4 linked regions of the Homo sapiens genome follow. The protein of the gene in region 3 purifies or fractionates together with the protein of the main gene of each other region. This does not show direct contact. Each region holds a gene or a part of one and is shown on either strand. Other genes may lie near its edges.

Region 1 (3,500 bases), on a different chromosome or scaffold from region 3:
CAGAACTTTTCACCACTGAGCCCTGCCACCTCTTGCATGCACCTTTACAATCTGCAGCCTGGCATCGCATTCGACTTTTAGCACTTGCGATGTCCTTCCTCAGTGCACAGTGTTCTTGAGACAAAAGTAGCGGGTAATGATGCTTACTTGCAATTAGTGCGACAGGGTTCCCTCCAGCCTGATCCGTCATACTGTAAACAAGCACTGAAGGCTGGGCACAGTAGCTCATTCCCATAATCCTAACATTTTGGAAAGCTGAGGCAGGAGGATCGCTTAAGGCCAGGAGGTGAGACTGGTCTAGGCAGCATAATAAGAACCGATTTTTAAAAAATTGGCCAGTTGTGGTGGCCCGCACCTATAGTCTCACCTGCTCAGGAGGCTGAGGCAGGAGGATCGCTTAAACCCAGGAGTTTGAGAGTGCAGTGAGCTATGATTGTGTCACTGCACTGCAGCCGGGATGGCAGAGTGAGACCCTGTCTGAGAGGCTCCTGCTCTCCAGCTTTGAGGAATAAACATTCAGGGCTCCACCTAGGTTTTTTTGGTTGGTTTGGGTTTTGTTTGTTTGCTGGCACTGTCTTTGGTTTTGTTATCAGAGTAATTAATGCTGGTCTCATAAAATGAGTTGGGAAGTATTTCCTTCTCTGATAGTGTTTGGAAGAGATTATGTAGATTTGTTGATCTTTCCAAAAAATTGCTTTTGTTTTCATGGATTTTTTTTTCTTTTCTCTTTCGTTGATTTCTGCTTTGTCTTTATTATTTCCTTCCTTCTCCTTGCTTTGAATTTATTTTGCTTTTTCTAGAAAAGCTTAGAATTCGAGACCTTACTTCTTTTCTCCTTTTTTTTTTTTTTTGAGACGTCTCACTCTGTCGCCAGGTTGGAGGGCAGTGGCGTGATATCGGCTCACTGCAACCTCCGCCTCCCGCGTTCAAGCAATTCTCCTGCCTCCACCTCCTCAATAGCTGGGATTACAGGCGTGTGCCACCGCGCTTGGCTAATTTTTGTATTTTTAGTAGAGACGAGGTTTCACCATGTTGGCCAGGATGGTCTCAATCTCTTGACCTCATGATCTGCCCACCTCGGCCTCCCAGAGTGCTGGGATTACAGGCCTGAGCTACCGCGCCTGGCCTCTTTTCTCTTTTTTTGAGACTGGGTCTCGCTCTGTCGCCCAGGCTGTAGTAGTGCAGTAGTGCGATCTCTGCTCACTGCAGCCTCCACCTCCCAGGCTCAAGGGATTCTCCTGCCTCAGCCTCCTGAAGTAGCTGGGACCACAGGCGCCCACCACCGTGCCTGGCTAATTTTTGTATTTTTTGTTTCGTCATGTTGCCCAGGCTGGTCTCGAATTCCTGAGCTCAGGTGAATCTGCCTGCCTTGGCTTCCCGAAGTGCTGGGATTATAGACGTGAGCCACTGCACCTGGCCTCTTCTTTTCTAATAATTTAATGCTATAAATTTCCCTTTATGTACTACTTTAGCTGCACCCAGCAAATTTTAATGTGTGAGTTTTCGTTTTCATTCAGATCAAAAAGTTTTTTGTAAGACTTCCTCTTGGGAGCATAGATTAACAAGTATAGTTTAATATATTAGTTATAATTAATAATTACTAATAATTGGTTAATATAGTTTAATAAGTATATTGTTTAATTTCCAAGAGTTGGAGATTTTATTGTATCTTTTTGTTATTAAATTTTAGTCTAATTCCATTATGGGCAGAGAACATATTTAATATGGTTTCAATGCTTTTAAATTTGTTAAGGTTTATCTTAGAGCCAGGATATGGTCTTTCTTGGTGAATTATTCCATGTATACCTGAAAGAGTGTGTATTTTGGTTTTGGTGGGTGGATCGTTCTATAAATGTCAGATTTAATTTGTTGATGGTATTAGTTCTTCTCTGTCATTGCCGATTTTTCTGCATACTTGTTCTATTACTCAGAGAGAGGTTGTTGAAGTCTCCAGCTGTGATTTTTAGATTTGTCTATTTCTCTTTTCATTTCTGTTTATTTTCGCTTCCTGTATTTTGCAGCTCTGTTGATGCATATACATTGAGGATGATGATGTCTTCTTGCTGAATTGACCTTTTTATCCTTTCGTAATGTCCTTCTGTATTCCTTTGCCTTATATTCATAGAGCTGCTCCAGCTTTCTTTCTTTTTTCGGAGACAGTCTCACTTTGTCACCCAGGCTGGAGTGCAGTGGTATGATTTTGGCTCACTGCAGCCTTGAGCTCCTGGGCTCAAGCAGTCCTCCTGCCTCAGCCCCACAAGTAACTGGGACTACGGGTGCACACCACCACACACAGCTAATTTTTGTATTTTTTGTAGAGATGGGGTTTCACCATGTTGGCCAGGCTGGTCTCGAACTCCTGAGCTCAAGCAATCCGCCCGCCTCGGTCTTCGAAAGTGTTGGGATTACAGGCGTGAGCCACCGCTCCTGGCCACGTTGTTTTGGTTAATGTTTGCGTGGTGTATCTTTTGCATCCTTTTACTTTTAATCTACCTGTATCATTATATTTGACATGAGTTTCTTGCAGATCTTATAGTTAGATGGGGTTTTTAAAACTCTGTTCTGAAAAATCTGCCTTTTAATGGTATGTTTAGATCATTTACCTTTAATAAAATTATTGATATTTTGGATTTACGTATACCATTTTATTTGTTCTATTTTTATTTCTATTCTTCCTCTTTTTAATAAATTGAACATTTTTAGTATTACATTTTTCTTTTTCTTTTTTTTTACACTGTTCTCTTTGCGTAGTTTTTGTAGTGGTTGTTCTGGGGGTTACAATGTATGTATTAAACTTCTCACAATCTACTTAGAATCTGTATTTGCATATTTCAGATGGAATGTGGAAACCCTACTGTCACTTAGGCCTTTTGCCCTCCGTCCCCTTCTTGACATGCTCTTCTATGTTGCATACATGTACACTGATAACTCCTCAGACAGTGCAACACATTTGACTTTCTGTCATCAAACACATTCTAAGAAACTCAAGAGGAAATGAATAGTATTATACAGTTGGCCCTGGAGCAACATGGGTTTGAACTGTGTGAGTGTACTTATAACATGGCTTCTTTTCAACCCAAAACAGATCGAAAGCACAGTATTCTCGGGATGTAGAACCTGTGTATAGATACGGAGGGCTGACTTTTTGTATATGTGGGTTCCGCAAGGCTAACCACAGGACTTAGTATGCACAGGTGTGGTTATGCACGGGTGGTCTTGTCACTGATCTCTGTTCAGATCGTTTCTGGAGTTGTCCCTTGGTTTCCAAGAAGTGGTGGTTCCATAATTTGGATACCATAATTAGAGGCTGCCCAAGTGCTTTATATGAAATGGCATCATATTTGCATATAACCTACACACATCCTCCTGCAGACTTTCAGTCATCTCTAGATTACTTATAATGCCTCATACACTGTAAATGCTATGAAAATAGTTGTTATACTGTATTATTTATTTTGTTGTTGTTGTTGTTGTTGTTATACTGTTATTTCTTATTTGTG
Region 2 (3,500 bases), on a different chromosome or scaffold from region 3:
AAAGCTACTAAACGTCTTTCATAGCAATTAGAATAAAATTCAAACTCTTCGGCATGGCCTACACACAAGGCCCTAAATAATGTAAATGATTGGACTCGCTCCCAGTTCTCCTGTCACTCTCCTCAATCACCATGCCCCAGCCTCAGTGGCCTTCCTTGGCACACCCACAGCTCATTCCTACCTCAAGGCCTTTGACTTGCCATTGCTCATGAGACCGATTGCTTACCATCACTCAGGATCTCATTCAAAACTTCATTCCTGGAAAAGGTCCTTCCCGACCATCAAGCTAGAGGAGCTTGCTGCACCCCTTCTCTGCCCACAGCTATGGATCTCCAAGTGTGGGCTTCAGACCAGAAGCGTCAGTGTTGCCTGCAAGCATTTCATTTTGTGTTGTGTTTTCTCTGGAAATGCAGAGTCTTAGGCCCCACCACAGACCCACTGAAGGAACAGCTACATTTTAACCAGACCCCAGAGTGATTGTGCTTTAAAAATTTCAGAAGCACTGATCTAGAGTTTCCCCTTCTAATTTTCCTGTGTATCTGTTACAAGGTGTGTCCATTGCTGCAGGTAATCTGGCATTTGTTTACCTGTTTATTATTTCTCTTCCCTAAATAGAATTTAAGGTCCACAAGGGCAGCACCTCGTCTGGCTCGTTCACTTCTGGATCCCCGGCACGTAGCGTCAGTGCACACAGTACATGCTCAATAAGTATTTAGATGAGTGAAAGAATAAATGAATATAATGGAAATTATTTTATGTTCTTTGAAATGTATAACTGAAGGCTGGGTGTCATAGCTCAGCCTGTAATCCCAGCACTTTGGGAGGCCAAGGTGGGAGGATTGCTTGAGTCCAGTACTTCAAGACCAGCCTTGGCACATGGCAAAGCTGCAACTCTATAAAAAAATACCAAAAAAAAAATATATATATATAGCTGGGTGTGGTAGTCTCAGCTACTTCGGGAGGCTGAGGCAGGAGAATCACTTGAACCTCGGAGGTCAAGGCTGCAGTGAGTCATGATTGCAACTGCACTGTAGCCTGGGCAACAGAGGAACATCCTGTCTCAAAAAAACAAAACAAAACAAAACAAACAAAAAGGATTGCATAATTCTACAATAAAAATCTTCATGGCTTTCACTTGTTTGTAAAATCGGGGTGATTTTTCTCTCCCAACATCATCGTTATACAGGGGTTTCATTCTATATCTTGGGCATCAAGTGCTATTAAACTATTGTGGCCTGTGAAGAATTACTTATTTATCCTTGCTTTGGGGCAGTTTGTCTTCAGAACCAAAGTTTAGATTTTGTTTAGACTGATTCTCTACTGACTTAACACCATAACTGGTTTTTTTTTTTTTTTTTAGTATTTAAGAAGCACTCTCGTTCAATCCAGAGTTAACATTATCTTTAAAGGTTTTTTATTCAAAATGAATGTTTGATATTTGTATCAAGTTTTATCAAATAAGTTAACAATTTAAAAAAAATCAGGTTTTAAAAATGTTAAGTCAAATGCAAGATTTAAAGTTAAATTGCAAATAAAAACTGATAGGGCATATAATGTATCCAGTTTTTTACATCTGAGATAGGATTCCAGGAAAGACCTATAGTTTCTGATATTATCCTGCATTTTTTTTTTTTGAAATGGAGTTTTGCTCTTGTTGCCCAGGCTGGAGTGCAGTGGTGCAGTCTCGGCCCACTGCAACCTCTGCTTCCAGGGTTCAAGTGATTCTCCTGCCTTAGTCTCCCAACTAGCTGGGATTACAGGTGCACACCACCATGTCCGGCTAATTTTTTGTATTTTGAGTAGAGACGGGTTTCACCATGCTGGCCAGCCTGGTCTCGAACTCTTGACCTTGTGATCTGCTCGCCTCGGCCTCCCAAGGTGGTGGGATTATAGGTGTGATCCACGGGCCCGGCCCTACATTTAAAAAATACATTCCCAGTATATTTCTTAATGCATATCCTGGTGAAATTTGTGAAGAAACAACTTTTCAATCTATATTCTTTGAGTGAATAAATAGCACAACTTACATTCTATGGTTTTCAACTGGGGGCAGTCGTGTCCCAGCGGATGTTTGGCAATGGCTGTGACTGCATTTTTGGTAGTCACACCTGGGATGGAGGAGTACTGGCAGCATCTAGTTGGGGGAGCTCTGGGGTACTGTTAGTTATGTAATGCACAGAACACCCCACAGCACAAAGAATTATCTAGCCCAAAATGTCAGTAGTCCACTGTTAAGAGACAGTGGACAACTGTCTCCTTCTGCATAGAGAAGTCTCCTTCTGCAAATACTAATGCCATTGGAAAACGAATACTTTGCCCTACCTTCTGGAGAAGAGAATATATAGAAATTGGCAACTGAGAGATTCAGATGGGTATACTGGCACCTTTAGATATGTTCATTTTAGATGATTATTTCTAATCAGAAATCTAGTGACTGGCCTCCCTCTCTTTGGGGCAAATCACTCTCTCAACACAGGACATTTAAGACATTTCACAACTTAGTTGATTTTAGAATTGGATAACGTTCTCAAATAATGATACATTTTTTAAAATAGGGAAATTCAAATATAGGGTTACTGGTTTTCCTTATTTTACAGATGGGGTCGAGGATTTGGTCTTTTGGGTTCCATTTTTGGAAAGGATGGTGTATTAAACCAGCCAAACAGTGTCTTTGGACTTATATTTTATATACTACAGTTATTACTTGGTAAGTATTTATCAATACAAAAATAAGTTTGTTATATTCCGTTTAGTACTTTGTGTCTTTGCCCTGAAGTGTCTTGATGTTAAAGCATGTGTTATTTATAGAACCACTAGCGTGTACAACATTTTTGTGTTATGAAAACTTGATTCACTGAGATTTTTATTATATTATTGTTGAATTTATGTCAATTGCTGTTTAATCATGGAGAGCAGTATCTCATGATGTCCAGAAAAACCAGTCCCATTCCAGGAAATTATCACTCCCATCTTCCCTGTTAACGTTTTTCCTTATTTTATAGACTCAGTGGCCTTGAAAAATATCATATATTAAGGGGACATTAACAAGAAACCATATTCATAATCCCATTACCTTTACATATCCACTATTTCCACAGTCTTCTGCTTTTAAAAATAATTTTTGGGCTGGGTGCGGTGGTGCACACCTGTAATCCCAGCACTTAGGGAGGCCAAGATAGGCAGATCATCTGAGGTTGGGAGTTCGAGACCAGCCTGGCCAACATAAAGAAACCCTGTCTCTACTAAAAATACAAAATTAGCTGGGCGAGGTGGTGCATGCCTGTAATCCCAGCTACTCATGAGGCTGAGGCTGGAGAGTCACTTGAACCCGGGAGACGGAGGTTGTAGTGAGCTGAGATCGCGCCATTGCACTCCAGCCTGGGCAACAAGAGCGAAACTCCGTCTCACAAAAAAGAAATAAATAATAATAATAATAATAACTTGGGGCCAGGTGCAGTGGCTCACACCTGTAATCCTAGGACTTTGGGAGGCCGAGAAGG
Region 3 (3,500 bases):
CGTCTCTACTAAAAATACAAAAATCAGCCAGGTGCGGTGGCGCGCACCTGTAGTCCCAGCTACTCAGGAGGCTGAGGCAGAAGAATCGCTTGCACCCGGGAGACGGAGGTTGCAGTACCACTGTACTCCAGCCTGGGCGACAGAGTCAGACTCCATCTCAAAAAAAAAAAAAAAAAAAAAAAAAGAAAATGTTCAAATAGTTAAAACAAATATAAGGAGACAGAGCAGGGATTAGCTATGCCTATGAAATAAAATCAGCCACCACGTGAGTGCTTACTAGGAACCAAACGAGAAGGCTATAGGAGGCAGACACTGATGCCCTCATTTTATGTACGAGTGAGGGAAAGATTAAATAAATTGTTCTATGTTCTAAAGCAGAGTGAGTGGCACAGCAGGATTGAAATGTGGTTATTAGAATTCCTGTGCCTCCTAAAACCACTATGCTACAATACTGACAAAAACTGGAAAATCCTAGTACTAAGTATGTTTGCCTATATAATGTCGACATTACAAAATGACAGGTGATTAGAACTTGCTTCCTTTACAATCAAAGGCCTACATTATATAGATGAAGCCATGTCAGAAAAACAGAAATTCTTCTAGAAATTGCAAATATCCCTAGTTGTATCTAGCAAGATGAAATAATGCCAAGAAATTACACATTCTTCCTTACTGAAACCACCGCTATTCCTGCAAACCTGCAATTAACGATTTAAAAAATCAATGTCCTCATCCTATTATTTAGTGTGTACCAGGTGCCATTTACTCAGAAGTGCTATTTTTACCATTGCACACAATTTAGACTTAGGTTAAAATGTGATTCCAGCCAGTGATAAACCCCACAGATGTCTAACAGTGACATAAATGTGTAAATATACTAATCTCATCTTGGGAACTCAGGCCCCAAATTCAGAAGTAACCTATTTTCCTGAGACAAATAGTGTGGCTCATTCTGCAGAGACTCATAACTGGTTTTCTTACCTGCTAGAAGTAATATAAGGCACACAGCAAAAAAATCGGGATATTCTGCAAGACCAGTGTAATTCATTCTGAAGTATGTCCTCAAAAACTGACCAATCTGTTTGCTAAGAAGTTCATCAAAGGTGCCACTCCAGGCTCTTGCAACACTTGATGTACCTTCCCAAAACAGAACAGAGAATACGAAGTCACTGGGGGCAAATTAAAGTAGCATCATTTGCTACTCTATTATAGGATAAACATGAGTTCACAAAAGATTGAAAATTTTAATCACATATACAGTATCTGGATATTTATAATCATACAGTAGTCATCAAATGTTCAAATCCATAACTCTGGAATCAGGTAACTTTATTTGCAATAAAGAATTATAACTTAAAAAGTTTGCAAGCCCACTAAAAGGCATAGTCAGAGATGAAGCAAAAATCACAGAATTTTGTGGCCGGGTGCCGTGGCTCACACCTGCAATCCCAGCACTTTGGGAGGCCGAGGTGAGTGGATCACCTGAGGTCAGGAGTTCGAGACCAGCTTGGTCAACATGGTGAAACCCCGTCTTTACTAAAAATGCAAAAAATTAGCCAGGCATGGTGGCAGGTGCCTGTAATCCCAGCTACTCAGGAGGCTGAAGCAGGAGAATCGCTTGAAGCCAGGAGGCAGAGGTTGCAGCGAGCTGAGATCACGCCACTGCACTTCAAGCCTGGGCGACAGAGTGAGACTGTCTTAAAAAAAACCCACAGAATTTTGTAATTAGAAGGAGACATTTTCGAGATGACAAAAATGAGACACACAGACATCAAGTGATGTACCCAACACCTACAACTGAACCTAAGGGCTGTGACTCAGGGCTGCGATTTCTTCCATTCCACACAAGTTAGATTTCTTTTTGAAACATACCTATCACATACGATAAAATGAGATTCCAGCCAGTGATGAAGGCCCACAGCTCTCCGACAGTCACGTAGGTGTACAAATATGCAGACCCCGTCTTGGGAACACGGGCCCCAAATTCGGCATAGCAGAGGCCAGCCATCACTGAAGCCAGGGCAGCAATGAGGAAGGACACCACGATGCTGGGGCCCGAGTCTGCCTTGGCCACCTCCCCAGCGAGGACATAAACCCCGGCCCCAAGGGTGCTTCCAACGCCCAGGGCAATGAGGTCCATGGTGGATAAGCAGCGGCATAATTTGGTGTCTTCTAGACTGTCCAGGGTCACGATTTTTCTCCGGATCAGACATCGGGCAAAGGTCAGCGCGGCTCTGCAAGGAATCATTCTGACGTCTGACGAAGGCGACCTGAGCAGAAGGGAGGAGGTTAGAAGCTGATCTGGAATTGTCATCCCTCCCTTTGGTAACCTAGCTTCCAGGCACAATTAGAGTATGTGTGTGTGTGTGTTTGTGTGTGTGTGTGTGTGTGTGTGTGTTTCACTTGTTAGAAGAGATGCAGTGACCCAGAGCAGTCAGAAGGAAGGTTTAATAACCAGAGCCTCGAATTTCCTGTAGTTCAATTTCCTGTAGCATACACGTCCCCTTATAAGAGACTGCAATAAATGGCTTATGTGGCAAGCAAAGGAATATAGCAGCCTTGGGTGATTAAAAAGATTTGCCATTCTTGTTTGCATATTATAATTTTGTGTTTCTGTTTTTGTTTGGAAACAGGATCTCACTCTGTCGCCCAGGCTGGAGGGCAGTGGCACAATCTTGGCTCACTGCAGCCTCAACCTCCTGGGCTCAAACAATCCTCCCACCTCAGCCTCCGGAGTAGCTCAACCTCGGGGTTACAGGTGTGAGCCACCATGTCCAAGCTAAAAATTTCCTAAGGATATGTTGATAGAAATATATTTCAAGAGATGGCTAATTTCATTCTCACTACAAGGAAAGGAGTGAATTGCCTCATCTTTTGGGTTCTGTCTCTCTTTACTTCAACCATCCATTTAACTCAGGTTCTTTTTCTTTTTTTTTTGAGACAGGGTCTCACTCTGTCACCCAGGCTGCAGCACAGTGGCGTGATCATAGCTCACTGAAGCCTCAACTTCCTGGGCTCAATCAATCCTCTCGCCTTAGTCTACTGAGTAGCTGGGACCACAGGCATGTGCCACCACGCTCGGGTAACTTCTTTATTTTTCGTAGAGACAGGGTCTCACTATGTTGCCCATGCTGGTCTTGAATTCATGGGCTCACGCAGTCCTACCTCCTTGGCCTCCCAAAGTGCTGGGATTACACGCATGAACCACCATGCCTGGCCCAGATTTTTCAGGCCTTACTAAATACCAGGAATTGTGCTGGGAATATGTGTAGAATGATCTCTTACATAGATGGGGTCTCTAGCCTTACAGGACTTAGCTATCATCTAAAAGCACGTAAAAACTTAATCATTACGTATTCTACAGCTTTATCAAGCATGTGTGAGCTTCTCTGTTTTCATTTTAAACAATGAATGTGAAGCAGATGTGAACTTTTTAGAATTTTTAAAAAATCACCTCTCAAGGCCTGCTGAAATCTAAAAGTGCTATTCAACTATGCTTT
Region 4 (3,500 bases), on a different chromosome or scaffold from region 3:
GGAGACTGAGGCAGGAGTATTGCTTGAACACAGGAGTTCAAGGCGGCAGTGAGCTATGATTGTGCCAGTACATTCCAGCCTGGATGACAGAGTAAGACCCTGTCTCTAAAAAATAAAAATTAAAAAAAAGAAAGAAACAAAAACATTCTTGATTGGATATTTATATGGGAAATACTATGAGACTTATTTTTAAGCCAATACTTCAAGTTAGAAATTATATATATAATTTTTTTTTTGAGATAAGGCCTCACTTTGTCTCCCAGGCTGTACTGCAGTGATGTGATCACAGCTCACTGCAACCCCAAACTCCTGGGCTCAAATGATCCTCCTGCCTCAGCCTCCTGAGTAGCTAAGACTTCAGGCATTTGCCACCACACCCAGCTAATTAAAAAAAAAAAAAAATTGTAGAGGTGGGGGTCTCACTATGTTTCCCAGGCTGGTCTCAGACTCCTGGACTCAAGCGATCCTCCTGTCTCAGCCTCCCAAAGTGCTGAGATTACAGGTGTGAGCCACTGTGCCCAGACGATGTTTGTATTTAATTTTTTTGCATATATGGTTATAATGCATTCAGTAAACATTCACCTGTATTGTGAATGACATGCATTGAATTTCTGTTACTTCTCAGCACTTGGGAATGGCTCTGAGGGAACTGTTTGACTCTTGGGTGTGCTTAGGAGAAAACTAGAACACAAATTTTTTTGCTGACTGGCTCACTTAAAATTGTACAATTTTTAATTTTCGTATTTTCTTATCCTATACATGGTATTGGCAAATTCTTTTGATTTTTTTTTTTTTTTAAGACAGTCTCGCTTTGTCACCCAGGCTAGAGTGCAGTGGCGCGATCTCCGCTCACTGCAACCTCCGCCCCCCACCCCCCCCAGCCCCGCCCAGATTCAGGTGATTCTCCTGCCTCAGCCTCCTGAGTAGCTGGGATTACAGGCACGTCCCACCATGCCCAACGGATTTTTTCGTATTGTTAGTAGAGACAGGGTTTCGCCATGTTGGCCAGGCCAGTCTCGAACCCTGGACCTCAGATGATCAATCCACTTCGGCCTCCCAGAGTGCTGGGATTACAGGTGTGACCCATCCCACCAGGCCTTCCTTTGAAATTTTTAGCATGTAGTTTATCCTCCTTAACATTAAGTTATGGCTTATGCAGATAATCATACTTGTTTCTCTTTAAAACTATTAGATTGTCCAAAATTTAGATGAAATACCAAATTAAGGATATTAATTAGTTAAGCTGTGTCTGTCTCCACATTTTAATTGGAAGTGAAGTTCCCCCTCAGGAAAGGAGGAAGAATAGGATGATATGCATAGGTATCAATCATTCATTCATTCACGTACATTTTGGAAAAGTTAGGAACAGAAACAGATGTTGTATATATGTAGCTTATTCTTACTGTGTGAAGCCGGTAAAGCTGGTACAGGTTATTTTTATTCTTTCTTTAAGCATTATGTTATAGAAAATTTCAATCACCTGCAAAAGTAGAGATAATGGTATAATGAGCCCCTTTATGGTATAAAGTTGGGCAAATGGTATAATTTATCCTTTACCCAACTTTTACAGTTATCGGCACATGACCAATCTTGTTTTATCTATTCCCCCCACCCACTATCCTCACTCCCTTTAGTGATTTTGAAGCAAATCCCAGACATTATATAATTTTACCCATAAATATTTCTGTATTTATCTCCAAAATCGCTTCTTCCTTTCCTTCCATTCTCAAATTCTTATTTTTACAAGTGTAGAAATTTTATTTTATGTCAGTTACATCAGTGATTATTAATATAAGTTAATGTAAAACTCTCCCCTTAACTCTTGATTTAATTCAGTTATATTAATAATAAAAGGTACATGCATAATATGTATTGCTAATAAATTTACTAAGAATCTGTCAAATTCTAAGCAGGAGATGTAGTTCTTTAAAAGTCAACTGCTCTTTTTCTATGGATACCTCTGTGGGGAGAAGAAATCAAAGAAAGACACATGAATCAAAAAATGCTTTGCTTCAAAACATCATGTTGTGCACCATAAATATACAGAATTTTTGTCAATTTTTTAAAAAATGCATTTTAAAAAGTGTTTTACTTATAACATGAATACATCTAAGTGTTTGGGGAGCAAATCGTATCTCCCTTTTTGTTGTTGCTAAAAATGATATATCCAGAACCATTTCTCTCGTCTTTCTCTGCCACCACCCTCAACTAAACTACTGCTACCTCTTACCTAGATTATTGCAAAAGCTTCCTAGTTCATCTCATTGTTTCTCCCCTTCTGTCCTTGCAGTCTGTTTTCAATATACCCACCAGAGTGATCTTATTAAACAGGTTAGATCATATAATTCCTCTGCCTAAGATTTTCCAAGTGCTTGCTCTTTTGTTCAGAGTAAAAGCCAAAGTCTCTGCTTGATCTGTATGCCAACCCCTACACTTCTTCCAATCCATTTCTCATCCTCCATCACTATTCTCTCACTCTTTATTCACACTAGCCTTATTGCAATTCAGAAGTCCCAGGCATACTTCAGTTTTAGGAGCTTTGTCCTGACTGTTACTACCTCTACCTGGAATGTTCTTCCTGCAGACATCTGCTGGCTCCTTCGCTCCTTTCAAGTCTTTATTCAAATATTGCGTTATTCATGAGTGAAGCTTTTTCCAGCCATTCAGTATAATGTTCTGACCCTCCCCATTACTTCCCTGTTGCCTTTCCTTGCTTGATTTCTCAGCACTTAATGCTATTTAACCTACTCCAAAACTTGCTAGTCTCATTTATCTCAGGAAGGAAGGGATTTTGTCTGCTTTAGTTTTGTTCTCCATTTAACAAAAGCCATTTCTCAACTCTGCATCCCCTTTTAGGTGACACCATTTCTTTCTCATGTATTGATGAATTGAGTCATTTTCTGTAAGTGAATTAGTTTTCTGTGATAGCATATTTGTTGCTAGGCTTTGGAACTACCAAAATGAAGTAATCCCTGCCCCAGCCAATCTTATGGGGGGTTCTTTTTTTCTAATGTATATTCGGATTGTTGCCAATTTTTTCCTGTTACAAAAAGTGTTACAATGACTATTATTGTTTATTTATTTATTTATTTTGAAGTTAAATACCCAGAAGTGGAATTGCTGGGTCATGGGTCACGTACATTATGACTGTTACTAAATATTGCCAAAGTATTTTCTAAAACAGAGTTCTCCTTTCCCTACATCTTGCTCAACACTTTGTACTGTCAGACTTGAAAAAACGTACCAGTCTGATGGGTGTGAAATAGTGTCTCATTTTGTTCTAATTTGCATTTTCTTGATTGCTGGTGAGATGCAGGTATCCTCAATTTCATTCACATGAATAGATTGCCCGTTTTCCATTGGGTAGTTTGGCCTTTCCTAATTCTTGCTATAGCCTGGATGCCAATTCTTTGTTGTATATGTTGTAAATATCTTCTAGTCTGTTCCGTGTATTTAATTTAGTTTATGGTATCTTTTTTTATACAGAAAGTTTAAATTTA

Evidence for each region. The genes of interacting proteins can lie anywhere in the genome.
Region 1: the proteins of SLC7A2 (region 3) and LMTK2 purify together in Homo sapiens (affinity purification with mass spectrometry; one large-scale study listed by BioGRID and IntAct). This does not show direct contact.
Region 2: the proteins of SLC7A2 (region 3) and VKORC1L1 purify together in Homo sapiens (affinity purification with mass spectrometry; one large-scale study listed by BioGRID and IntAct). This does not show direct contact.
Region 4: the proteins of SLC7A2 (region 3) and ATP11B purify together in Homo sapiens (affinity purification with mass spectrometry; one large-scale study listed by BioGRID and IntAct). This does not show direct contact.

The regions. Positions count from the first base shown.
Region 1 is NC_000007.14:98,197,362-98,200,861, forward strand, and holds part of LMTK2 (serine/threonine-protein kinase LMTK2 precursor), read left to right. Parts: intron 1-3,500. UniProt on the Homo sapiens protein: Phosphorylates PPP1C, phosphorylase b and CFTR.
Region 2 is NC_000007.14:65,946,074-65,949,573, forward strand, and holds part of VKORC1L1 (vitamin K epoxide reductase complex subunit 1-like protein 1), read left to right. Parts: intron 1-2,597; coding exon 2,598-2,707; intron 2,708-3,500. UniProt on the Homo sapiens protein: Involved in vitamin K metabolism. Can reduce inactive vitamin K 2,3-epoxide to active vitamin K, and may contribute to vitamin K-mediated protection against oxidative stress.
Region 3 is NC_000008.11:17,542,088-17,545,587, reverse strand, and holds part of SLC7A2 (cationic amino acid transporter 2), read right to left. Parts: intron 2,271-3,500; coding exon of another isoform or gene 2,249-2,270; coding exon 1,873-2,248; intron 1,138-1,872; coding exon 982-1,137; intron 1-981. UniProt on the Homo sapiens protein: Functions as a permease involved in the transport of the cationic amino acids (L-arginine, L-lysine, L-ornithine and L-homoarginine); the affinity for its substrates differs between isoforms created by alternative splicing.
Region 4 is NC_000003.12:182,800,004-182,803,503, forward strand, and holds part of ATP11B (phospholipid-transporting ATPase IF), read left to right. Parts: intron 1-3,500. UniProt on the Homo sapiens protein: Catalytic component of a P4-ATPase flippase complex which catalyzes the hydrolysis of ATP coupled to the transport of aminophospholipids, phosphatidylserines (PS) and phosphatidylethanolamines (PE), from the outer to the inner leaflet of intracellular membranes.